Linked DNA regions of Homo sapiens. The protein of the gene in region 1 purifies or fractionates together with the protein of each later gene. This does not show direct contact. Each region holds a gene or a part of one and is shown in the gene's direction. Other genes may lie near its edges.

Region 1 (3,500 bases):
TAATGTCACATAGTCTCTGTTAGAGGCCAGTATTGTGCCATCCACAGTAGGTATCTGACTTTTGTGCTCTGGTTACTTCTGAGACCTGTATCTTTAGTGGTTTTTATTTGCTGTGTGCATTTCTTTCTTTTTAACTTTTTATTTATTTATTTATTTATTTTTTTGAGACGGAGTCTCACTCTGTTGCCCAGACTGGAGTGCAGTGGTACAACCTCAGCTCACTGCAACCTTTGCCTCCCAAGTTCAAGCAATTGTCCTGCATCAGCCTCCCAAGTAGCTGGGATTACATGTGCCCACCACCATGCCCAGCTGATGTGTGTGTGTGTGTGTGTGTGTGTGTGTGTGTGTGTGTGTGTATGTGTGTATTTTTACTACAGACGGGGTTTCACCATGTTGGCCAGGCTGGTCTTGAACTCCTGGCCTCAAGTGATTTGCCTGCCTCATCCTCACAAAGTGCTGGGATTACATAAGGCCTGAGCCACCAGGCCTGGCCACTTTGTTTTATTTTATTTTATTTTATTTTATTTTATTTTATTTATTTTATTATTTTATTTTATATTTTATTTTATTTTATTCATTGTAGAGATAGTCTCTCACTATTTTGCCCAGGCTGGTCTCAAACTCCTGGCCTCAAGCGATCCTTCTGCCTCAGCCTCCCAAAGTGGATCCTCCTTGAAATTACAGGTGTGAGCCACCATGCCCAGCCTCTTTTTAACTTTTTATTAAAGTGTGATACACATAAGAAAATGTATATATTTGTACAATTAGGAGAATTGTCAACAAATTGAACACGTCTGTGTTACCAGCGCCCAGAACAAGAGATGGAATTCACCAGAGTCCCCGGGGTAACCACTTCTTACAGCATAGATTCAGTTTGCTTGTTTTTGTACTTTATGGAGAGGAATCATGCAGTGTGTACTCTTCTGTGTCTGACTTTCTTGGCTCAACCTGGTTGTGCGATTGATCTGTGTTGTTGCTGTAGTTCATACATTTGCATTGCTGTGTGGTATTCTGTTGTGTGAACATACCACAGTTTATTCTTTTCTCCTGTTGATGGGCATTTGGGTAGTTCCTAGTTTTTGGCTCTCACAAATGGAACTGCACTGAACGTTCTTGCATTTGTCTTTTGGAGCATTATGTTGGGCTGTACCTAGAAATGGGATTGTTATGTTGTGGGTATAGGCATAGTTTTCTTTTTGTTCATCCTACTTAGAAAACATTGTCCCAGCCAGGCACAGTGGCTCACACCTATAATCCCAGGACTCTGGGAGCCCAGGAGTTCAAGATCAGTCTGGGCAACATAAGGAGACTGTTTTCTACAAAAACTTAAGAAAAATTAGTCACACATGGTGGCACGCACCTTTGGTCCCAGCTATTTGGGAGGCTAGATGGGAGGATCACTTGAGCCTGGGAGGTTGAGGCTGCAGTGAGCTGAGATTGCACCACTGCACTCCAGCCTGGGCGGCAGAGCAAAAGGGAAAAAAAAAAAAAAAAGAAATATTTTCCCTGTTGAATGTATGGATTGCATTGGTGTCTCATGAAAATCTCTCAGCCATTACTATTAAAATATTGCCTCTCCGGAGGTTGCAGTGAGCCAAGATCGCGCCATTGCACTCCAGCCAGGGCAACAAGAGCAAAACTCCGTCTCAAAAACAAAAAAAAAGTATATATATATATATATATATATATATATATATATATATATATCCTCTCCTCCCACTATTTTCTTCAATTAGATATGTGACTGTTAGAGCATTTCACTTTATGTCTCAACCTCTCTTTTATATTTTCCATCTTCTGTCTGTATCACATTTGGGGTATTTTTTACATACCTATGTGTTCCAGGTCAGTATCTCTTTCTTTCAGCTCTGTGTAATCTGCTATTTAAACCATCCCATGAGTTTTTATTTTGACATTGACTTTTTGTTCATTTCTAAAAATTCTGTTTGGTCCTGTCTGATCATTGTCAATAGTTTCTTGTTGCTTGTTCATTGTTTGTTGCTGTCTTTTATTTATGTAAACATTTCATAACACTTATTTTTAGTTTGTGTCTAATAAGTCCAATACCTGCAGTTTCTAGAGGATTGAATTCTGGCTTCTGGCTTCTGCTGTCATTTATGGGTGGCTTTGCTCCATGTATGTTATGGTGATCTTTGATTGTGAGCTCATATTTGCTTGATGTTAATCTCTGGGAATATAAAGAGCCTTATATGGGATGCTATTGCTTTTGCAGAGAAGTGAGAAGGTGCTAATCTGGGACTGTCTGAACCTCCTTCCAGGGCCCTGTCTGGTGCAGGTGTCCACAGTGCAGCTTCTCCATTCTGCTAATAGCAGTGCTGACACATAGGCATTGGTTGCAAGGTCCCCCCAGCTTTGTGTTGCATAGTGCTCACGCGTTGGTTTCAGCTTCCAGGATTTTGTTTTGTTTGGAGATTCTTGCAGGTTTTCTTTTCTTTCCATGAGGACAGTCACAGAGGTTGCGATCAGCTTTGCGCAGGATCTAGTTGTTTGGTGGTCATGTGGGGGATGGGGTAGGGCACCCCTCAGCTTTCGGCCTTGCATCAACTTGTTCTCCATTCTAGAGCCAGAGTGATAGTTTAAAAACACAGAACTCTCCTGCTTGAAACCCTTTGCTGCCTTTAATTCCAGTGACTATTTATTTTTGTCTTTAGTTCCTCATGAGATAAAATGAAGGCATATGAAGAAGATACTTATGTTTACTATTATAAGTATAATACATAAAGCGGGCTGGGCGTGGTGGCTCACATCTGTGATCCCAGCACTTTGGGAGGCCTAGGTGAGAGGATCACCAGGAATTCGAGACCAGCCTGGGCAACCTATCGAGACCCCATCTCCACCACAACAAAAATTATCCAGGCGTGGTGGCGCATGCCTACTGTAGTCCCAGCTCCTGGGCCTGGGAGTTCAAGGCTGCAGTGAGCCATGATCGTGCCACAGTACTCCAGCCTGGGTGACAGAATGAGACCCCATCTCAAAGAAAAAACAAAAAAATACATGAAGTGAACATGGTGAGATCATGTGGCTTTCAGTATTTTCAGACTGAAAAAATAAGAAGCTAGTACCATATGGAGACCTATTTGGGGAATACACGTTAGCCTTACCAGTCAGTATTAAGAATGCATTCTCTGGGTAGCAAGTATGGGTCTTAAGCTACTTCACTGGTGATCTTTTTTGTTTTTTCACAGACAAGGTCTCACTATGTTGCCCAGGAGGGTCTCAAACTCCTGGGCTCAAGCAGTCTTCCTGCCTCAGCCTCCCCAGTAGCTGGGATTACAGATGCATGCCGCCACTCCTGGCTCCCATTAGTGATCTTCATTGGTAAATTGCCATCTTCATCTATCAAATCAATGGCATTACCCAAGCAGGGACTCCCTGAGTTGTCAGAGAACAAAGACGGCCCAGGCAGACTTGGTTCACATAGTGGCTGTCTATCCCTGCCTTTTCCCACTTTGAGATTCACCTAGCAGAGGTTTCCCATA
Region 2 (3,500 bases), on another chromosome or scaffold:
CCAGATATTTTCAGTTGCCGTGATTCTGAGGATCTGATGCCCCTGGAAAGGTACAACAGTCCCCAGCACCCACTAGCTGGCCCAGGCCCCAAACTGCCAGGAGTGGCCTTCTTGAGACCATGTGTCACCCTCCCAGGGAACAAGAGCTCGTGGCTGTCTGATAAGCCAGGCCTGTGTGACTCCTCAGGACATGCACCCCCAGGTCCCTGTACAGCTGAGCACAATAGCTCAGGAGTGCAGGGCCATGATGCCTGTGTCTGTCTTCTCTCCTGGGCCACAGCCACCCCACGTCATGCTGCAGCGCCGCAGAGATCATGGCTGTCCTCTTTTTCCACACCATGCGCTACAAGTCCCAGGACCCCCGGAATCCGCACAATGACCGCTTTGTGCTCTCCAAGGTAAGAGCCCAGCTGCCCACTGCCAGCCACACCTTGCCTGGGACTAGGGTCACACGGGCCCTGGAATGGTGAGTGGTCTTTGAGGAGACCTGGCTGGGCCCACCTCTCCCAGGTGCCTTCTCCCTGCTCGTCCTGGCCTCTCCCTCAGTGTCCTGCTCTGTGCTGACCCAGCTGGCTAAGGAATACAGGACTGAATTGATGGGTTGCTCTGCCATGGAGCCCAGGTACATAAACAACGCTTTAACTCAAAGAAATGGAGTAGGGGACTACGGAAACATCTGTTGTGTGTTCTGCCCAGTCTGGGTGTTGACAGGCAGGACTGGCATCTCGGTCTGGGTTGTGGCTCCCTACCTGCTCTATCTGTGTTGTGCCAGCGCTCCCGAGGCCACGGCTTGCCCCCTCGGGGTGGTGGTGTGCTGTAGCAGGGTTTTGGATGGGGACCCCCTGACCCCCCCCTTCTGGGTGGAATCACAGCCACAGATCCCTGAAATCCACCTGTGCTCAGGCCTGCCTCCGTGGCGTTTGGTCTCTCGGGCAGGCTTTAGAGCTTAGAAGTCTGTCCAAGTTGTTCCCATGCCACAAACCAGGGATTAGGGCAGCCGGCTGCCTGCTGGGGTTTTGGCTTCGTCCAGCCTCACAGCTGTGCCCCCTGCACCTGTCTTAGTGCCTGCCTGGCCTTGGCAGTGGGAACTTTGGGCTGAAAACCAAGAGGCTGAAGAGGGCTGAAAGGGGAGAAGTGGCCTTCACTTGCTTCCTCCCCTGAAATGGATGCTGCAGTTGGCCGGCTCGGCCGGGCCCCAGGGGTCAGTGTGAAGTAGGCACAGCCCGAAGTAGAACCGCTCCCCACCTGACCTCACCCCACCATCCATCTCCCGGCAGGGCCATGCAGCTCCCATCCTCTACGCGGTCTGGGCTGAAGCTGGTTTCCTGGCCGAGGCGGAGCTGCTGAACCTGAGGAAGATCAGCTCCGACTTGGACGGGCACCCGGTCCCGGTAAGTGCTCCTGCCAGAGCCTCCCATGCCTCTGCCTCCACTTCCTATTTCCCAGACATGTGGGACGGGGGTAGGGGGTGCCCACTGAGAAGCCAAAGGTGTTGAAAGGCGGAGGAGGGCATTGAGTTGAGGAAGGAAAGAAGCAGGTGTTTTGGGGACACGTATTCAACCCAAGCTGGTGCCAAAGGGGAAGGCCTTCTGAGGCCTCAGCCAGGGTGCTCTGGGATGACTTCAGGGAGGGCCTCTCCCCAAGCTACCCTTCTGCACTGGGCCTCCTTGGCTAGGTAGCTACAGCTTGGGAAGAGAGGGGACTCGATAAGGGAGTGGCTGCAGGATGCTGGCGAAACCCTGGGGAAGGGACCCAGTTTGTTCCTTGGGGTGCCATCTGGCATCCCTGCAAACGTTAAGACTTCATGGATTACCACAAAAACTGTCACATGGTCTGGGTCCCCACGAGGGGCAAATGTTCTGTCAATTTTTTCATGATTCTCTCTCCCAGCACTTTGTGAAGTGGGTGATGTGGGAACTGAGGCTCACAGAGGTTCAGTCCCTTGCCTGAGGCCTGAGGCCACATAGCTGGCTAGTGGGCAGGGCTGGGATTTGAACCTATAATTATAATTAGTTCATTAGGAGAAGAAGTCACATGCTAGGTAGAGGCCATCCTGGGGCCTGACCTTCTGCAGAGGAAGGGCTTGCTGGGCTGGGTGGGAGTGTGGCTCCCTAGGCGGGTGAGACCAGGATCCCTTCTCCTCTCAGATTAACGGTGGCCTTCTGTTATGACAGAAACAAGCTTTCACCGACGTGGCCACTGGCTCCCTGGGCCAGGGCCTCGGGGCCGCTTGTGGGATGGCCTACACCGGCAAATACTTCGACAAGGCCAGGTAACACACCTACTCCCCACCCCCAACCTGGGTAGTTTTGGGGAGTGGTCCTTGGGTGACCCACCCTTCACCATCGCCCCCAGACTCTTCCTCTTTCCTGGCTAGGGCAGAGTAATACATATGCGTGGCCTCTTTTGCTCTTTAAACATCCGCTATGGCTGGTGCCATGACCGGCCCCCTTTACAAATGAGGAAACACTCAGGAGTTAAGGGACCTGCCCTGGGTCCCTCAGCAGTGACTGGCAGGGCCAGGTTTGCACAGAGTGCGTGCTCTCAATCATGTGCTCTTCAGCCAGAGTGCTTAGGCTGAGGACTTCCTGTTTTGCCCCCAGCCCTGTGCCCAGACCCCAGAAGTCTCAGAAAGACCCACCCCCAGGCCCCTGTCTGACTAGGCACCAGGAGCCCAGGCCTGAGCCACTTGCCTTTATCTTGGTAAAGGGGAGGGTTGTATGTTCTGAGGGGTTCTGGGATACCTGTAAGCCACCTCCTATCAGCAGGGAAGAAACAAACATTTGAGAGATTGAGCCTTCAGAGGGTGGGTGATGAGCCTGACCAGAAAGGTGTGCTGCTCTAGCGCCCACCAGGTGATTTGTAGGAACGGCCCCCCAGGAAGGTTCTAGCCATAAGTTTGTCTGCGGTGGTCAGATATGGCCTGGGGGGATGAGGTTGTAAACTGTTAAGAATAATGGCTGGCTGAGGGAAGGATTGCTTGAGGCCAGGAGTTCCAGACCAGCCTAGGCAACAGAGCAAGACTCTCTCTACAAAAAATACAAAACTTAGCCAGGCATGGTGGTACACACCTGTAGTCCCAGCTACATAGGAGGCTGAGGTGGGAGGATCACTTGAGCCTAGGGCTTCAAGATTATAGCTATACATGATTGAGCCACTGCACCCTAGCCTGGGCTACAGAGCGAGACTCTGCCTCTTTAAAAAAAAAATTATTCTTTTTTTTAAAGAATAATCACTGTATTAGTCTGTTTCCACACTGCTGATAAAGGCATACCCAAGTCTGGGGAAGAAAAAGAGGTCTAATGGACTTACAGTTCCACATGGCTAGGGAGGCCTCACAGTCATGCTGGAAGGTAAGGAGGAACAAGTCACATCTTATGTGGAAGGCGCAGGCAAAGAGAGAGTTTGTGCAGGGAAACTCCCGTTTTTAAAACCATCAGATCTTGTGAGACTTATTCACCATCACGAGAACAGCATGGGGAAGACCTGTCCCCATGATT
Region 3 (4,190 bases), on another chromosome or scaffold:
TCCTCTTTTTTAACCCTGGCTAGGGGTTAAAAAAGTGACCTTAGTCACTTTCCTTTGCTATGCCTCATGATTTCTCTCCTCTCTGGATATCCCATGGCCTCTAGCAATTGGATCTGGTGGGAGGTAGATTTAATCATTTACAGCAGCCAATTAAACTATCTGCACAAATGGAAATGTTCTGTACCTGCACTAATATGGTAGCTTCTAGCCACATATGGCTATTGAACACTCTAAGTGTTGCTACTACAACTGCGTAACTGAATTTTTAATTTTAATTAATTTTAATATACACAGTCACATGTGGCCAGTAGCTACCCTACTGGATAGTGTAGATTTATAAACAGGCACAGCCATTTGCCACAGTGAGTGGTTTGTGCCCTAACATGACAGTGTCAGACTCCTATGATATTATAATGGCAGTTATCAAAAATATTTGTTATTGGGGCCGGGCGCAGTGGCTCACACCTGTAATCCCAGCACTTTGGGAGGATGAGGCGGGTGGATCACCTGAGGTCAGGAGTTCGAGACCAGCCTGGCCAACATGGCAAAACCCCATCTCTACTGAAAATACAAAAATTAGCCAGGCATGGTGGCACATACCTGTAATCCCAGCTACTGGGGAGGCTGAGGCAGGAGAATCACTTGAACCTGGGAGGCAGAGGTTACAGTGAGCCAAGATAGTGCCACTGCACTCCAGCCTGGGCAACAGAGTGGGACTGTCTCAAAAAAAAAAAAAAATTATATATATATATATATATATATATGTTATTGGGCTGCCTCTGAAGTAAAGCATCACAAGGCTCTTTTGCCACCAGTGCAGCACTAAAGTGGTAAATAGTAGCACAGCTTTTGATGAAGGAGTTAAGGTATCAAGAAAGATTACCTTATGTTCCAAAGAAAAATACTTACAAGAAACGAGCCCCCTTATGAACCATGCTTCAAACACTGTTTCTTACTAGGAATTTTGCAAGAATACAGTAAAAAAAAAATTTTAAGGAATTCCTCTCCAGCAAAATCCATGAGATGGTGCATAGGAGTTATATTTACAAAGCATCATTGTTATTCTCTCTTGCATTGGTGGTGATAATAGCCAAGTCATTTCTGAGGCTGTCACAACACACTTCACAAACACCGTCTTTTGTTTTGAAATGTTGTAAATCATTGTTATAGTCCCCGTAATTATGGAAAGGCCATTCAGGTCAATTATTACTTTTTAACAGAAAAATTATTTGAAAACAAACTGAATAATAGTGGGTAAAATGATCTTTTATTTCATTGTATATAAAACATTGTCTTTCTTTTAACAGCAGATTGCTGTTCCCCGCAATGATGAATGGGCACGGTTTGGCCGAACACTTGCAGAAATTAATGCAAACCGAGCTGATGCAGAGGAGGAAGCAGCTACCCGAATACCTGCTTAGTTCCTGAAAAGGGGAGTGTAACTAGTGGATTTGGGAAAGGTTCTTAAGTAGATCCTGAGACTATTTGCATGCTTCTGTCTAAATGATAATTAAAAGGAAATTTCATGGATTAAACCATGGGTTTAATGCAGCAAGGAAACTTACAATGTCCCTTTATATATAACATGCATCTTGTTTTGGATTTGTGTCATTTTTTAATATAGCTGATTGACTTCACAGAAAGCAGCTTTTTTGAATTCTAATACATAGGTGTATATTTGGTATTAGTTATTTTGAGTTCTTTTCAACTTATAACACTGTATACAGTTATTTCTAAAGCACAGATGAAATAAGTTCTGCATATTTTTAAATAATCACAGTTCCCTGTTATACAGATAATGTTCTCACTACCCATAATATGTAGGAACATTGTTTCTCCTTAGCCGTAGTATGCATACACCTATCCATGTTCATTCTGACATCCTTTGTTGTCTTTATAATTCATGTGGTAGTTACCTATAAATAAAAACAAATATGCGTTAACTTTTCAAATTTTCATTTTTACTCCTTACAACTTGAATTTTTCCATCTTTTATAAAATATATTTTTTCCATATCTTTCTTTAAGCTCCTGCTGTGAGCAGCCATCTCAAATCCTATAGAGCTGTGTACCCTAAATATACCATGTGGTATATACTATAGATCTCCCAGTGCATTATGAATTGATGTCTAGATAATCTGTTGGTGAAAAAATTTCCCCTAGGTTAACTTTTGCTTTACTACTTTATATTCTTTCCATCTAAGACATATTTCCTTTAAAGGATAAATAGAAAGCTGCCTATAATTTTCACTGATTAAGAACTATGTATGTGACCTCACTGAGAGTAAAATCTTTGAGAGAAATTGATTTCATGATTTCAGTAGCCATAAAGGCAAAGTGCTCAAATGGACCCATACTTTGGCATTAAAATCTACATCTTGAGATCTGTTGCCACAGCATTGTCTACAAGTCCGAAAGGTAGGTGACAAATATCTAAGAATCAGTATTGAAATCAGTGAATTTCAGGAATAGAGGAAAGGACTATGATCAGATCTTGATTTTATCTACTTTAAATTGTCTATTTATTTGATCCCAACCTTTTGTACTTCTGAAGTGTAACTGTCTTTTATTCAACAGAACATGAACTAGGAAGAGAGATTAGAAAACAGAATGTGAACATTTTTCTTTTAATAATTGTAACAAAGATTTGTTGGGAGAGAAATTTCCAAATAATGAGTAGTGTATAGTGTAAGGAATAATTGACCTGGAATTATTGGCCCCAAACTCTGATTCTTGCTGAAGCATCTATGAGAAGTGTGATTTTAGCCAAGTCTGTGCCGCATTCTTTATATGTAGGAATTAAGTTTTGATTTAATGATTTCTGAATTTTCTTTCAGCTCTACTCAATTAAGGGGTATCAGTATGTGAAATGGAATATAGAAAAGTAGGCAATTCTTTACTTTTCTATATTCAGTTTCATAAATTAATACCCCATAATTGCCCATTATATACCAAAGACAATATCTCAAGTTATCTCATTGTAGCAGTGTCTGTGAGTCAAAACTTCAATTTTAGTAGAGTCACACTTTCTTTATATAGAAAAATTCATGTACTCACTACTCATGTAGTTACTGTATCTTTACCTTCAGTTTGTAAAAATGACTAAAAGTAGGGAAAACAAGTGTTAAAACATAATGGATAAGAAAAGGTTGGAAATCATATGGCAAATCACATGTTCCTCAGCCTCAAGGTGTGTTTAGTTGTGAAAGAAAGAATAAAATTGTTTAAATATTTCACTTTTTGGGAATGACTTCTCCCCTACTCCCCCAGAAAATGCGATGTATACCTTTGCCCATTCAACTTTAGTCCATATTTTTAGGAACACACAAATTTACTTTAAGGAATTACCTTTAAAGTTGACTATATAATAGCAAAAGAGAAAGTATTGAGACTGTCAGTGTTGATAAAGCTTCTAGCAAGATTAGGTTGACTAGAAGTGCATCACAGTTCTTTATACTTTTAGAACTAAAAGCCTTATAATTTTGAAAAATATCCAGTTACAGAAATTGTACCTTATCAGTTATACTTTTTTTCTGAGTAAGAAAACAAGCTATAGCTTTCTGGTTAATTTCTTATTTTTCGTTGTTTGGTTTTTGTCTTTTTGAGTGGAACGTTAAAGTTTATTACCTTCATGTTAAGGAATATCCAGCTTCACAGACAATTAACTTGCAATAAATCTCTGAAATAATCATTTTTTGGTATTATTTAAACCAAATATGCATTGGTAGAAGCTTTCTTCCTGTTTACAGATCCAGCTCCCTATAAAGTTTAGAAAATCTCTTTGTATAAAATGTTGTTACAATAATGCTGAAATACTGCATCTCAAAGGAATGGATGACTTAAAATTTAGTGGGAGGAACTATAGGAAAGTCGTTTTAGGAATGATTGGTCCTAGTCTTTCAGTGTTGTTAAAATGTTTTAGTCTGTTCTGTACTAGTGTGGATAGACTAATATCCACCCCTTGAACCATACAGAAAGACTTGAATGGATGAGTGAAAATCTGCTGTGAAGCATATCATACTATCTTTGCTTTATATTGAGTAGTGCATTACTTTTAAGTCAGAAAGCCAGTAGGTTTTTTTGTTTGTTTGTTTTTCCCTAAAGCGCTGCCATAAATTTCAGTGGTCACCTGCCACTCACTGGGCGGTGTATTTTTAAATGTCTTTTCCACAACCCCAGTATTTCAACATT
Region 4 (3,500 bases), on another chromosome or scaffold:
TAATTATTGCTATCAAGGTATTTTGTAAGCAAAAGGTATTGAAACAGAGGATTGGATTGTCTCTGTAATCTTTGCAGCTCCTGACTGTCAAAAGACATGGCACAATATGTCATCAAAAAATGCATTTATGAGCTACGTTTTCTTTTTCTTGAGACTAGTCTCACTGTCGCCCAGGCTGGAGTGCAGTGGTGTCATCACAGCTCACTGCAGCCTCCACCTCCCGGTCTCAAGGGATCCTCCCACCTTAGCCTTCTGAGTAGCTGGGACTACAGGTGCATGCCACCACACCCTGCTAGTTTATTTTTTTGTAGAGACAGGGTTTCTCATTGTTTCTCAGGCTGGTCTTGAACTCCTGGGCTCAAGTGATCCACCTGCCTCGGCCTCGCAAAGTGCTGGGATTACAGGAGTGAGCCACTGTGCCCAGCCAAACGACGTTTTTAAAGCTATCTCCTTTTAGGAATTTATTAAATGCTCATTGAAATTTGGTACTACTCAGAGCTGTCTTGTGAATCCATATAGTAGTATAAATTTTACTGGAAAAATTGTAATCTTGAAGATACCCTTTTTGTATGTATGATTTAGTAGAAAACACTAGATCAGGAATTTAAACTTAGGTCCTAGACTTCATTTTGCCACAATTGCTTTCTAAATCTAACAACATGGACAGATCATTTAATCATTCTGAATTTGTTTTTTATGTATAAATTAAGGATTTTAGTTATTACTTTGTCTGGTCCCAGTAGGTCCTTATGGGAGTCGTGTTTAGTAATGATGTAAGCGAGTGCTTGTAGTAGTGCTTCAAAGTATATTAGAGTAGGCATCTTGATACTACTACTACAGAATCCATGTAATAGTGTAACATGGTGGGTGTGTAAGCTTATGAACCTTATGTCCATATTTCTTTGTTAAGCTCAACTACCCAAGTGTGTGTTAGAAGAAATAGCCAAATAAGATTCACTAGAGATGGTAGAATGCTATCTAAAAGTCCTGACTTCTGATGTTACGTAAAGTTTCCTACAATTTAAAATGCTATAATTGTTTAATACAGGACAAAATCTATTATGTAATGAGAAATTTGTTTCATCTTGCATAATTGAATTTTTTTTTTAATACAATTTTGAGTTATTCTTTTTTTGTGATTTCTCTTTCAGGAAAGATCGTCCTACTTGGAGTACCAAAAAGTAATGAGAGAAATAGAACATTTGAGTCGTTTATATATTGCTTATCAGTTTTTGCTGGCTGAAGATACCAAAGTACGCTCAGCTGAGGAATTAAAAGAAATGCAAGATAAAGTTATAAAGCTTCAGGAAGAATTGTCTGAGAATGATAAAAAAATAAAAGCACTTAATCATGAAATAGAAGAATTGGAAAAAAGAAAAGATAAGGTCTGAACATATGTATAAGAATCGATAATATACTCTGTGAAAAACGTACTAAATTATATATAGTAACTATTTAGGATTCATTGGGCATTGTCTTCCGTATTGATTTGTTAATCTTATAGTAAGATAATGAAATAACTTATAAAAAAGTGTTTGATACAGAACTCATACAATAAAATGACAGCGTGAACAAATTTTACATAAGTGATTGAATTGACTGCATTTTGTTATAGGAAACTGGAGGTATACTTCGATCTTTAGAAGATGCTCTTGCAGAGGCTCAGCGAGTTAATACTAAATCTCAAAGCGCATTTGATCTCAAGAAGAAAAATCTGGCATGTGAGGAAAGCAAACGCAAAGAGCTGGAAAAAAATATGGTTGAGGTAAGTGAGCTTAATGTGCCACTAGTGCCACTTGTAGACAAGTATATAGTCTCATTAGTGTACATTTATCTATTCCATGAATATTTAGTGAGTGTCTTCTATAAGCTAAGTACAGTTGTTTGGGCTGTGGTTACAACTGGACCAAATGGTCAAAAATCCTTGCCTTGTGGACCTTCATTCCATTGGGGGAAATGATAATAAAGAAAATAAATAAAACATGTAACATGTTATAGAGTGATAACTGATGTGGAGAAAAAGCAGGGAAGGGGATTAGGAGTGTAGGGGAAAAAGAGTACAATTTGGGATTTTAAGTTGGATAGCCACTGAAGTAAGTGGAGAATAGGAAGAACGGGTTTGATAAGCTTAAGAAATACAGTATGAATATAATAGGCTTGAGGAGCCTGTTAGACATCTTGAGTAGTGATGTTGATTAGGTACTTAACTATATGAATATTGAATCCAGGCAAAAATACAGATTTGGAGGCATCATCAATGTATAGGTGTTATTTAAATCCATGAGACTAGATAAAATGATCAAGGCTGTAAGTTCATATAAGAAGGTTGGAGCCCTGGGATACTTTCAACGTTTGAATGTTAGGATAGTTCAACATTCAAAAGAGATTGAGTAGTGTGAGGAAAATTAGGCCAGTAAATTGTCCTGGAGTCCAGGTAAAAAAGATGTTTCAAGGAGAAGTGGCCATGAGTACCTGATTAGATTGTGTTCATACTCTCACAGAATGAAGGCAGAAAAAAGAAAAGTGAATATAGATAACTTTTTGAGAAGTTTTCTGAAAGAGGGATAAATAGGGAGGTAACTGGAGGGTAATACAGAAGAGAGTTTTTGGCTTGATTTGACATGGGATAAATAAATTCTATATTGACAGAAAAGATCCAGTAGAAAAGTCGTCATTTGTGATTCAGGAGAGAGAGATGGGAGAGTTGTTAAAATAGGGCCCCTTAGTAGCTGCAAGTAGGATAGGAACTAGTGTATAGAGGAGGTCGCCTTCGCGAGAACTAGGAATAGGTCATCCATGGTAACAGAAGAGTCAAGTATATAGTCTCACATGTAGGTAGATGAGTAGGTGTGTTTTTGGAGCTTATGGCATTTCTTTTGAGGGTGATTCTGTTGTCCCAGTGAAGGTATACATTTGCCTTTTCACTGAAAAAAAATTAACTTTGTGAAAATAATTTCTTTATACTGCCCTGTTAGATATTTTTGCAGAGAAATACATTGTTGAATTAAGAAACAGTGGAGGAAAATTTAGACAAAATTTTGAAGCGATATGAACGTGTTGTAGCAGTCTGTGTTGTGGCATCCAAGAACTGAAATCAATTCATCAATTACTTTTTTTTTTTAGGTGAGGTTTGTAAAGCTCTAAACATGTGGACCTGCCTTGTTTTGGGTTCATTTTTCTTTAGTCTTGTCATGTCCTTAAGCTTCACACACTGATTGCTCCTTTTTCATCCTTCTTTTCTGTATCCCCTTATTCTTCTAGATCTCTTAATGTTAGTATGCCCTAAGGCTAGCACTCTGATATCTTTTATAAACTCTCACGCCATAGGTGGTCTCATCCAGCTCTGTAACTCTAAATATCATCTATATGTTGATGCCCTCCAAATCTATAAGCAGGCTTAACTCCCTAAACTCTATGAAGCAGGTTTATTGTGTGCAGATTACCAACTTGTCTGAAGCCAGCAGACATAACACATTCATACACAACATTTTATGTGAAAT
Region 5 (3,500 bases), on another chromosome or scaffold:
TTTTGCAACCCCAGTAAAATTATGTAGGCAGTAATCATAAAAGGCTGCTAGTGTCATGAGAGATACCCAACATTTGGAGGTCACATCATCACCCCTCAAGTGGTCTCGCAAAAAAAAGACTTCTTCATTGACTTTTAATGATTTTAGTACTTTAGGTATATGGGCAAAGAAAAAGAGCTAGTGATTTTTTCCTTTCTTTTTTCTCTGACATAGAAAAAAGGTAAAATTTAGGTTTATTAAAAAGATAAATTGGGCTTACTCATGAGGCAAGAACTCAATTAGAACAACAAACACTTTTATTTTATTTTATTTTATTTTTATTTTTGAGGCAGAGTCACAAGACTCTGTCACCTAGGCTGGTAGAATTCAGTGGCACGACCTTGGCTCACTGCAACCTCCACCTCCTGAGTTGAAGCGATTCTCCTGCCTCAGCCTCCCGAGTAGCTGAGACTAAAGGCATGTGCCACCATGCCCGGTTAATTTTTTTGTATTTTTAGTAGAGACAGGGTTTCACCATGTTGGCCAGGCTGGTCGTGATCACCTGACCTCAGGTGATTTGCCCGTTTTGGCCTCCCAAAGTGCTTGGATTACAGGTGTGAGCCACCACGCCCGGCCTAGAACAACAAACACTTTTAAAATAAGCATTTGTTTAGAGGACCTAGCTAAAGGAAAAAGTAGCTGCAAGGAACATTTAAGATAGGACCAAATGGACATCTTTGCTAGTATGTCAAGGTCTCTCAGTTAGACAACACAAAGTTTTAAATTTTATATTATCATTCCTACTAAAGTTCATAGATAAAGAAAAAGTGGCTGCAGGGAATGTTTAGAGCATCATTATGTCTGTCCTGCTTGTGGTTGAAACAGTTACTTAATCTCTCAGCCTGTTTCTTCATCTATAATATAATGCAGATAATAACAATATCTACCTCATAGCATTATACAAGGATTAAATGAGATAATGCATTAAAGCACACATAACTCTGAATAAATGTTATCTACAATAAAATTTATTAGTATTACATTATCCTTATGCCATGAGTCTCATACTTGTTCTATACATTCAGAAAATAGAACTACAAAATAGCATAACTCAGAAAGGTTTTAGATGCTTGTTTAATAATCAAGTTGAAGTAAACTTACAAAACGGTGTTTATTTAAATAGGCACTGACAATTTCACATCAGGCTAGTCAATAGCACCTATAATATGTTTTTTTTTTAAGTCTTTGGGCCTAAAAGTGTTTTTTTTAATCTTCACATTTATGCTATTATTTTATTTAAAGTACATGTTTTTGTAAACACTCCTCCATCAAACAGCTAAATTGTGGGCATCTATTACATATTGCCTGCTTTTCTCATGGAATGAGCCCTCTGTGAGCTTCCTCTTCCCAGAGAAGCACCACATCAACTGTCAACTGCAGACATAATTCATAAGGACAAACAGCCTATGTTGAGAATGCTAAATGTCTCAGTTGAGCCACTATTTCATAATTCTATAACAGCCTAATTCCAGATGTGTATTAGGAAAATGTTCATATTCAATGGAAACTATCACTATTACAAAGCAAATTTTCTTCTTAACCTCCTGGAACCTTATATAGCTGAGGGCTAAAACTACTCAGGTACAGCTTTTTTTCTACTTGCCTCCTGAGAACACAAAGAGAAACACTCATCATCATCATTACTATCATCATTTTCATTAGATGTATGGAAAAATTATTTTTATGTCATGAAGGTGAGGTACCAATATACTGTGGTTTTCTTCATGGTCTTTTTTTTTTCCTTAAGAATGTTGTTTAAAATTTTTTATCCTTGTATTGATTCACATGACTTAAAAAATCTGCTTATGAACTGTATCTTCCTGAAGCAGGCTATAAAATTCTAAGATGATTAAACCATTGCTTAAAAACCATTTCAGCTGCTACAGTGTCTATTGTATAAAGATGTCCAGACTGCTGGACAGGAGCAGGGATAGATCTCCTAGGTACAGAGACCAAGAGACCACCTTGGATAAGGGAAAAAATAAGTCTCAGGGTACACCTGGCAAAGTGTCACCTGTCTTACTCTTCTTCTCAGGTTTCCTAGGCTTAAGGAAACATAGCAAGAAAAAAGCAAACAGGAGAGGTCAGAGGAATGACTGCCTTCCTCCAGGATAATGAGCTAGGAAAGAAACCAAAGGCCTTAAGCAAGGCAATAAAATACGTGAAAAGTGGCAGGAGAGATATTTGATGACAGAGAAGACCACTGTATCAAAACAATCTCAGACATTTAGACTGCAGATATGATTTCAGGGAAATTTACAAACTGTGAATACAGAATTTTTTTAATTTTAAAAGTGAAATTAGATTTTGGTTAATTTATAAATAATTATGTTTGTGAAAAATTTTAGCAAATTTTATTACAGCCATGTGTTTATTGTTATTATTACTTTGAATTTTCTGTGGAATTTCTCCCTTCTCTCCCTTTTTCCTCTCCCATAATATATATTCTTCTGTAGTCTTGTTGGTTTAGTTGTTTGACTGAGAAGGCTTGAAGTATTTGAAGACTAAGATTACTGAAAAGAAAAGGGTTTTGTCTCTATGGGGTACCCACATTTGCAGGGACTATGGTTATTTAGAACGTGGATTTATAACCAGGACACCATCACTCAACAAAATGTCCCAATGACCATCAAAACAAGTATGAGGAAATAAAAAACATGCTTAGTTTTTAAACTTCAACCTCACAGTGACTAAAATCATAGTCTCTATATAGATAAGAATGCAGTAAGACCCTCTATAGACAAGAGTTCAGGGGGGCCAAAGAATGTTGCCCTAAATGAATGTTGCCCTGCCATGCCTCTTTAGAATTCTTTGATGCATGCATTGACTGACACATTGTCAGAGTTCTGGAGCATAGGAGGAGAAGCATTCACCCTCCAGAGACTGCTCTAGACTAGATCATAACACATCTTTCTGAAGTTTTCCTACAATCCAGTTTTCTCTGTTTTAACAACTACGGCTTAATATCATTGTGGATCAGCCACATTTAATTTACTGTTGTCTATATGACTTAAATTGTGTTAACATTATATTCTCCTCCAGGTGTCATTCTCTATATTCTACTTGTGGGGTATCCACCCTTCTGGGATGAAGACCAACACAGACTCTATCAGCAGATCAAGGCTGGAGCTTATGATGTATGTAATAACTATTTATATCACTTTAGATGAAGGTTTGTCTTTTGCCTGTTGACCAAGAGCCAGATCTTTTCATTTTTCTTTTAACCATAATTTTTACCACTTTCTCATATTATTTCCCTCTCTCTTAAGGAAAGGGAGAAAGAAATGCAGCATTTGTATCCAGTTTACGTTTCCTTTTAACTCACTGTCTCCTAAGATTGAAAGAAAAGCCATGTGAAGTCTCTGAGGAAGAACTTTGTCAAAATATTTGGACCTTAGTGCATTTTAAAAACATAAAAATTAAAATATTTCTGCTATAGAAATGATTATTGCCTGTTTAGT
Region 6 (3,500 bases), on another chromosome or scaffold:
TTTTGGCTATCTGCAATAGCCCACATCGGTCTGCCTTCGGTAATACTGGGCCTGAAGATTGGTATTCATCTTTACTCCTTACCAGCCACCTCCCACAATCCCATGCTTTATCTCCCTGGACCCTTTAGCCCTATTTCCATGTGTCTTCTAAACTAACTTAATCTAAGAGAACAGTTCCTTGCAGCTGTGTGTCTTTGAACCAGGTTATTTTTTTCTCTGCCTCCTCTTCCCTGTGGATGAAAGGAGGTGAAGTTTCCCTGGCCTGAGTGGCACGGTTCCCATTATGCAGGGGGTGGGAGGCTGCTATGTCATGCTCGTATTGGCCAGCCTTGTCTCCACCAAATTTCACAGTGTGAAGCAAGGGTATACACATCCCTAGGTGGCAGACTTTGAGTTAGAAGCCTAGGTCCAAAACCCCAACTGGACACATGATTTCACTCTTTGAACCTCAATTTGTTACTCATCTGTAAAATGGGGATAGTGAGCCCTGCCCTGTCTACCTTACAGTGTTGTCAGGAAGATCACATGGTCTGTGTGAACTCCCTTTGTGAACTGTGAAGAGCTATACAAATGAAGGCATGATAGGATTCTACAATGTATGGTTTCTTTCTGCTTTGTTTTTCTTCCCTGTAGAAAGGCACTATAAGACAGGAAACAGCAGTAAAGACACTTCGATGGGAGGCAGAAGCAATAGAGGTCATGTGTCTTCAGTGGGACTGGAACACTCTAGGTCTCTAAATTTGGTCTTTTATTGTGAATCTAAATATAACCAAGATATATTGAGGTTAGGCCTCATTACAGTTGTCAGGTGGCATTGAGAAGCCATACCTGGTGCCACTCGGTTCTTAGAAGGGCTCTCATTGATCAGAAGCCGCTGGCTTGGAGACAGGGATAACAGCCTGACACTTTTGTGGTCCTTGGCAATATATGCTTCATTGGGCCCTGCATGGGAGTAGGCCAGCTCTCCAGCATACCACATCTCTGGCAAGGGTCTAAGGTGAGGCATGCAGGCTCACTATAGACATCTGGAAGACAACTGGGGGCCTGGTTTTTTGTTGTTGTTGCTGTTATTGTTTTTGGAGGATATGGCTTATATCCTGTAGCCTTGATGGCCTTATCTGGTGTTTGGTTAATCCAGGGCACCCTAGGACTATGTGTCTGTGGCTGAGCCTTGGCTTAGTATGCATCCTCAGTGAATTTCTTTTATACTAGGCTGACTAGAAATGGTTGGGGGAGACTGACCTAGACACCCCAGGTAACAAGGGAACACACACCTCAGGTTGGAGAGGAAGACCCATTCCTCGGCACCCCCTCTCCGCATTTGGTGGTGCTTAAAGGTTCCCAATGGCAGTAACTGGCTGGTTTCTCCTCTAGACCTTCTTCCCAGAGACCACGGACATCTATGACAAAAAGAACATGCCCCGGGTAGTCTACTGCATCCATGCTCTCAGGTGAGAGACCTCAAATTTTATCATCCAGGTTCCTCTAGGTGGATGCGACCAACAATCAACAACAACAAACTCAGCAAGAAAGAAGGATGAAGGGTAGACCACAGGGAGCACTGCTCAGGAGAGTGAGGTTTCAGATTTACAGAGTTGTGTTTAGATTTTTGTGCATGTCTGTGGGCACATTTATGTATGGCCTGTGTGGGTGAAGGGGAAGGGCAGGCAGGGTACCAGAGATAGGAAAGTAGCAGGGTAGGGCCTTCAGTTTGTAACTGGGTATAAAGGAATCAGAACAGGACCTATTGAGAGCAACACAGGCAAGACACTTAGTATGGATGGTGTAGGCTCTTTGGTCCTACTTACAGCCAGCCATCAGCAACCAGTTGGCTAAATCACAGCAAGTGACCGACCGGTTCCTTGTGTTTACCATGCCATCTCTTTCTGACCACTTCCCATGTCCCTTTGTGCCCCTGTGCCTTAGCTCAGCAGGTATCTGCTTGCTGCGCCCTTCCTGTCCTCTCTCTCCATTGAGTGACCTGCTACTGCAATGTGGCCTTCTCTGTGAAGCCTTCCTAATCCCCTCAGACCCCCAACACCATCTTATTTACCTTCTGCAGCACTTTCCTTGGGCTGATTTATGGTCATATTTCTTTATGTGGGTTGGGGATGACTTGAGGGCAGGTGCTGAGTGGTCTTCATCTCTAGGTCCCCATAGTATCCCCTTCAAACCCATCGTGGGCAGAGTGTCAAAATGAATAGGCCCCAGTGCCTTCCAATGCCTTCCGTTTTTTCCTAGTCTCTTCCTCTTCCGGCTGGGATTGGCCCCTCAGATACATGATCTATACGGGAAAGTGAAATTCACAGGTAAGCCCAGCTCCTTCCCTGACCACCACAGCCTGGGCAGGGTCTTGGGGGTTCTGGGCCTGATGAAGGGCACCTGTGGCATCATTGCAGCTGAGGAACTCAGCAACATGGCGTCCGAACTGGCCAAATATGGCCTCCAGCTGCCTGCCTTCAGCAAGATCGGGGGCATCTTGGCCAATGAGCTCTCGGTGGATGAGGCTGCAGGTAAGGACTAGGCTCTGCCCTGCCAGGAGTAGGCTCAATGCGTATGGGAGGGCTCCAAGCCTCACAGCCATTGGATGGGTTCTGGCCAGCTCTCATCCACAGATAGGGCCATCAGGCTACCTGGTTTGTCTGGCCCTTGAGGGTGGGAAAAAGGATGACATTAGAGTGGGCTGCTACTGGTTGCGCTCCAATCTGGGATTCACTCTGGCCTCCTGACCTTGTTTCCATGCCCTCTCCCAGTCCATGCAGCTGTTCTTGCCATCAATGAAGCAGTGGAGCGAGGGGTGGTGGAGGACACCCTGGCTGCCTTGCAGAATCCCAGTGCTCTTCTGGAGAATCTCCGAGAGCCTCTGGCAGCCGTCTACCAAGAGATGCTGGCCCAGGCCAAGATGGAGAAGGCAGCCAATGCCAGGAACCATGTAAGGAGTAGTCTTGGGTTGCAGGGACCGAAAAGTTGAGTGGCTGGAAAGTCTCAAGTGAAACCGGGACTCCTATCTGTCATGTCTCTAGTATCCAAAATTGCTTCTTAGAGAAACCATAATTTATCAGTGATTTTAGAGAAATAGGAAAGGAACTTGGAAGAATGATGAGAATTCCGAAGAGAAGACTGGAGAAGAGGTTCTTGGGGGATGATCTTCAGGGAAGCCTGAGAGGGGTGCTGGAATGTAGAACAGAATGAGATTGGACTGGAGGTTCCAAAGGTTGGTTTGGCTTAATTATGTCAGTGCCAAGTGTTTTAGACCCCACAATTCCTGAATTCTGAGCAGACTGAACTTTGGCCTTGGGAAGGTCCCCAGAAGAAGAAATAAGTGTAGCCAGGCAGGGAAGAGCAGGACAAGGAGATTAAATTGGGTTTCCCAGGTTCCCTTTCAATGGAGTTTTTGCAGGATGACAGAGAAAGCCAGGACATCTATGACCACTACCTAACTCAGGCTGAAATCCAGGGCAATATCAACCATGTCAACGGTAAGAGACCTCGAGCAGGAG
Region 7 (3,500 bases), on another chromosome or scaffold:
CCCTTGCCAGTGTCAGCAGAGGGCCCAGCTGCACAGACCACTGCTGAGCCCAGCAGGTCGTTTTCCTCAGCCCACAGACACCTGAGCAGAAGGAATGGGCTTTCCAGACTCTGCCAGAGCAGGACAGCGCTCTCTGGTAATGACCTTCGACCACTGCAGGCCTTAGCGCGTGGAAATACAAATGTGGAGTTGCTCTGTGTTCTCATGGAAACCCTCTCACCAGGGATTGAAGTCACTCTATTCCTGCAGAGAAAAGTTCGTGGTTTAAGTGCTCGGCTCATGCTGGCAGATGACTCCGGCAGGACCCTTCCTGCTGCTTTTACTCTGCTGTGATTCCCAGGCAGCTGGCGCTTCTTTTCAGGCAGCAGGTGGAACTCACCTTCACATTTCAGGGTCAAGTTACAACAAAATGTTATTTCTTACTTTAGAGTATGTGAGAACGCTGTTCTAGGTTAGGCTATTTTACTTAGGGAATTGCAGCTTTGCTCGTGCAGTTTACTGAGCTAAACGCGGTTTAGCTGGTGGACCAAGAATCATGGGGCAGAAGTCTGTTGGTGCCTCCTATGTCCAGATTCCGTTGGTGCCTCCTTTGTCCAGGCACCCCAAAGGACTGGGCCATGGTGAGGAAGGAAGCGTCACTTGCCTTTCAGGGGCTGTCTGATGGAGGCACTTGGGGAGACAGCAGGCTGTGTGCTTGAAGTTGGGGTAGACCTGGAAAATGGGGAAGTGGGGCATAGAGCTGCGGGAAATGGTGGCTGGGAGTCTGGTCTCCAGGTCAAGGAGCACTTCGACACTGGAGTAGGAGGGTGTTGGAGCTGAGCTTGTGCACTGGAGTGTCTGAGGGTGTAGAGCGGAGGGCCCTGTGGAGAGTGCCCAGGATACTGCAGGGAGGGGTGGGCTGGGAGGCACACAGCGCCCTTGGGAGTGGGCTTCACCCAGGCGCTGATCAGGAATGTTCTCAGTGAGTGTTGACAGGTGTGTTCCTTTTTTGGAGCATCATTCTGGTGGCTGCATGAGGAGCAGGGGTGGGAGCCGGAGGTACAGGGCCTTGAGACATGAGAAGGAGCTGCGCTTGGTGACTGCTGTCTGGGGAAGAGCAGGGGCGAGAGTGGCTGGATGGCCACGTGGTTTCCAGCCTCAGAGAATGGTCGGGGTCAGGCCACTCACTGAGAAAGTCAGGGGTCCTGGCTGGAGGACATGGAGGGGAGGGGATGGGAGAGAAATGGAAGGGTCAGGTCTTGAGTGCTTGGTTTTGAGCACTGGAAGAATGTATCTGGTGTCTCCAGAGATGGGGAAGCAGGCGAGTGGGCCGTGGGAGGTCCAGGCTGGAGGTGCGAGTGTGAGAGTCTTCAGTGCATTTCTAATTAGATGTATTTAAAGCTACCGAGGAATGGGTGAGATGGAGCCAGGGTCACTGAGAGGTGGGAGGTGGGGGAGCCCAGGTGCCCGAGGAGGGTGGTGTGGGAGGAGGGTGAGGCCTGAGGAATGACGGGGCTGAGGGTTTTGGGAGCCATTGGAGGCGTTGCTGAGAGAACGCTGCACAAGGAGCTCTTGAATCGTAGGAACGCTTCCAAGGAGGAGGTGACGGGGCAGCCACCGGAGTGGCCATGGGGTCTTGGAATGACTGACAGAGGACAGAAGGTGGGAAGGAAGGAACCTTTGAGTGTAATTAAGCTTTTTTGTTTTTTGGGACAAGGTCTGACTGTTGCTCAGGCTGGAGTGCAGTGGCGCAGTCATAGCTCGCTGCAGTCTCAAACTCCTGGGCTCAGGCAATCCTCCTGCCTTAGCCTCCTGAGTAGATGGGGCTGCAAGGGCACGCCACTATGCCCAACTGATTTTTACAAATTTTATTTTTAGTAGGGACAGGGTCTCGCTGTGTTGTCCAGGCTGGTCTTGAACTCCTGAACTCAAGCAACCTTCCTGCCTCAGCCTTCCAAAGAACTGGGATTATAGGCACGCCTGGCTTTGAGTGTAATTTAGACACAGAAGTGTTGATCTTATGCTGTTTGTGCTTCCGAGTGGACCTGGTGGTTGCCTAAGTGGATTCTGGGGACCATGTTCAGACACGCAGTGAGAGTGTGTGTTAGCTGTGCAGACTGACTTAATCCTTAGATCTTTTTGCAGGAGTTGAGGGCAAGGGCTGTGTGCTTTGCCTGTTTCAGAAGGTGGACTCTGGCAGCTGTGTGAAGTCTAAAGCTTCGCTTCGCTTCTCTTTTCAGAAGACAGATGGAGCTCCTATTGTCTATCATCACTGGCTGCCCAGAATATTTGTACAAGTAAACTGCACTGCCCTGCTGCCCCTGAGCACACGGACCCGTCCGAACCGCGGGGCAGTGTGTCCTGCTGCTCCCTGCTGCGGGGACTGTCCTCAGGGTGGTCCTCACCTCTGCTTCCGGCCCCTGTGTGCAACCCTAACAAGGCCATCTTCACGGTGGATGCCAAGACCACAGAGGTATTTGCTTCTCTTTTAGATCCAGCTGTGTAGATGTGGATTTGTGGTTTGTGCCTTAAACCTGGGATTTGTGTGTTTTAATGCAATTAGAAAAACATTTGGGCACTTCGGGAGGTGGGAAGTTTGCTTGAGCCCAGGAGTTCAAGACCAGCCTGGGCAACATAGCAAGATCCCATCTCTACAAAGAAATTAGCCAGGTGCGGTGGCACACACCTGTAGTCCCAGCTACCAGGGAGGCTGAGGCAGGAGGATCACTTGAACCCAGGAGTTCAAGGTTGCAGTGAGCTCTGATTGCGCCGCTGCAGTGAGCTCTGATTGCGCCACTGCACTCCAGCCTGGGCAACAGAGTGAGACCCTGTCTGTCAGGAAAAGGCTGGCTTCTGCATGGTCGTCCTGGGCTGTTCTGGGCAGCTGGTGGAGCTGCTGGGGATGTCTGCATCCTTGCTCCTCTTTGTGATTCCTCAGATCCTGGTTGCTAACGACAAAGCTTGCGGGCTCCTGGGGTACAGCAGCCAGGACCTGATTGGCCAGAAGCTCACGCAGTTCTTTCTGAGGTCAGATTCTGATGTGGTGGAGGCCCTCAGCGAGGAGCACATGGAGGCCGACGGCCACGCTGCGGTGGTGTTTGGCACGGTGGTGAGTGGATGCGGGTGCAGCGTTCAGTCTGGCCTCAAGACCAGCAGTGTGTGGCAGGAACAGCTCAGTGTTCCCTACCAGGAGCTCTGCTGGGGGTTGGGTGGCACCAGGACATCTCAGCTTCTTCAGCTGAAAATGTCATCCCAGGCGCCGTTTCCCCGCTTCAGCTGCAGTGGGGGTGGGGGCCCTTTAAGAACGAATCATCGCAGGAATGGACACTGTGGCTGTGGCTGGACTCCTGGGAGGTGTCGTGGGTGGCCCTTGCTTTGTCTGAGGGCTGTAGCTTCACTAATGTTTTGCAGTCCTGCCGGGCAGCACATCAGATGCTCAAGAGTAATATGGTTTTATTGTCTATTGATTTTTACATTCTGTTTGGTGTTTGTGGGAGCGGGCGGGGGTGTTGGCCTGGAAG

The links.
Region 2: the proteins of NINL (region 1) and TKT purify together in Homo sapiens (affinity purification with mass spectrometry, with the first as the bait; one large-scale study listed by BioGRID). This does not show direct contact.
Region 3: the proteins of NINL (region 1) and DYNC1I2 purify together in Homo sapiens (affinity purification with mass spectrometry, with the first as the bait; one large-scale study listed by BioGRID). This does not show direct contact.
Region 4: the proteins of NINL (region 1) and SMC2 purify together in Homo sapiens (affinity purification with mass spectrometry, with the first as the bait; one large-scale study listed by BioGRID). This does not show direct contact.
Region 5: the proteins of NINL (region 1) and CAMK2D purify together in Homo sapiens (affinity purification with mass spectrometry, with the first as the bait; one large-scale study listed by BioGRID). This does not show direct contact.
Region 6: the proteins of NINL (region 1) and IQGAP3 purify together in Homo sapiens (affinity purification with mass spectrometry, with the first as the bait; one large-scale study listed by BioGRID). This does not show direct contact.
Region 7: the proteins of NINL (region 1) and PASK purify together in Homo sapiens (affinity purification with mass spectrometry, with the first as the bait; one large-scale study listed by BioGRID). This does not show direct contact.

What each region holds. Positions count from the first base shown.
Region 1 is NC_000020.11:25,470,532-25,474,031, reverse strand, and holds part of NINL (ninein-like protein), read left to right. Parts: intron 1-3,500. UniProt on the Homo sapiens protein: Involved in the microtubule organization in interphase cells. Overexpression induces the fragmentation of the Golgi, and causes lysosomes to disperse toward the cell periphery; it also interferes with mitotic spindle assembly.
Region 2 is NC_000003.12:53,239,023-53,242,522, reverse strand, and holds part of TKT (transketolase), read left to right. Parts: intron 1-280; coding exon 281-398; intron 399-1,277; coding exon 1,278-1,391; intron 1,392-2,174; coding exon 2,175-2,272; intron 2,273-3,500. UniProt on the Homo sapiens protein: Catalyzes the transfer of a two-carbon ketol group from a ketose donor to an aldose acceptor, via a covalent intermediate with the cofactor thiamine pyrophosphate.
Region 3 is NC_000002.12:171,746,469-171,750,658, forward strand, and holds the end of DYNC1I2 (cytoplasmic dynein 1 intermediate chain 2), read left to right. Parts: intron 1-1,307; coding exon 1,308-1,421; 3' UTR 1,422-3,690; downstream 3,691-4,190. UniProt on the Homo sapiens protein: Acts as one of several non-catalytic accessory components of the cytoplasmic dynein 1 complex that are thought to be involved in linking dynein to cargos and to adapter proteins that regulate dynein function.
Region 4 is NC_000009.12:104,100,809-104,104,308, forward strand, and holds part of SMC2 (structural maintenance of chromosomes protein 2), read left to right. Parts: intron 1-1,151; coding exon 1,152-1,385; intron 1,386-1,615; coding exon 1,616-1,765; intron 1,766-3,500. UniProt on the Homo sapiens protein: Central component of the condensin complex, a complex required for conversion of interphase chromatin into mitotic-like condense chromosomes.
Region 5 is NC_000004.12:113,517,239-113,520,738, reverse strand, and holds part of CAMK2D (calcium/calmodulin-dependent protein kinase type II subunit delta), read left to right. Parts: intron 1-3,081; coding exon 3,082-3,176; intron 3,177-3,500. UniProt on the Homo sapiens protein: Calcium/calmodulin-dependent protein kinase involved in the regulation of Ca(2+) homeostatis and excitation-contraction coupling (ECC) in heart by targeting ion channels, transporters and accessory proteins involved in Ca(2+) influx into the myocyte, Ca(2+) release from the sarcoplasmic reticulum (SR), SR Ca(2+) uptake and Na(+) and K(+) channel transport.
Region 6 is NC_000001.11:156,562,566-156,566,065, reverse strand, and holds part of IQGAP3 (ras GTPase-activating-like protein IQGAP3), read left to right. Parts: coding exon 1-39; intron 40-633; exon of another isoform or gene 634-730; intron 731-1,374; coding exon 1,375-1,451; intron 1,452-2,241; coding exon 2,242-2,309; intron 2,310-2,399; coding exon 2,400-2,513; intron 2,514-2,753; coding exon 2,754-2,932; intron 2,933-3,400; coding exon 3,401-3,479; intron 3,480-3,500.
Region 7 is NC_000002.12:241,139,473-241,142,972, reverse strand, and holds part of PASK (PAS domain-containing serine/threonine-protein kinase), read left to right. Parts: coding exon 1-136; intron 137-2,219; coding exon 2,220-2,452; intron 2,453-2,917; coding exon 2,918-3,088; intron 3,089-3,500. UniProt on the Homo sapiens protein: Serine/threonine-protein kinase involved in energy homeostasis and protein translation. Phosphorylates EEF1A1, GYS1, PDX1 and RPS6.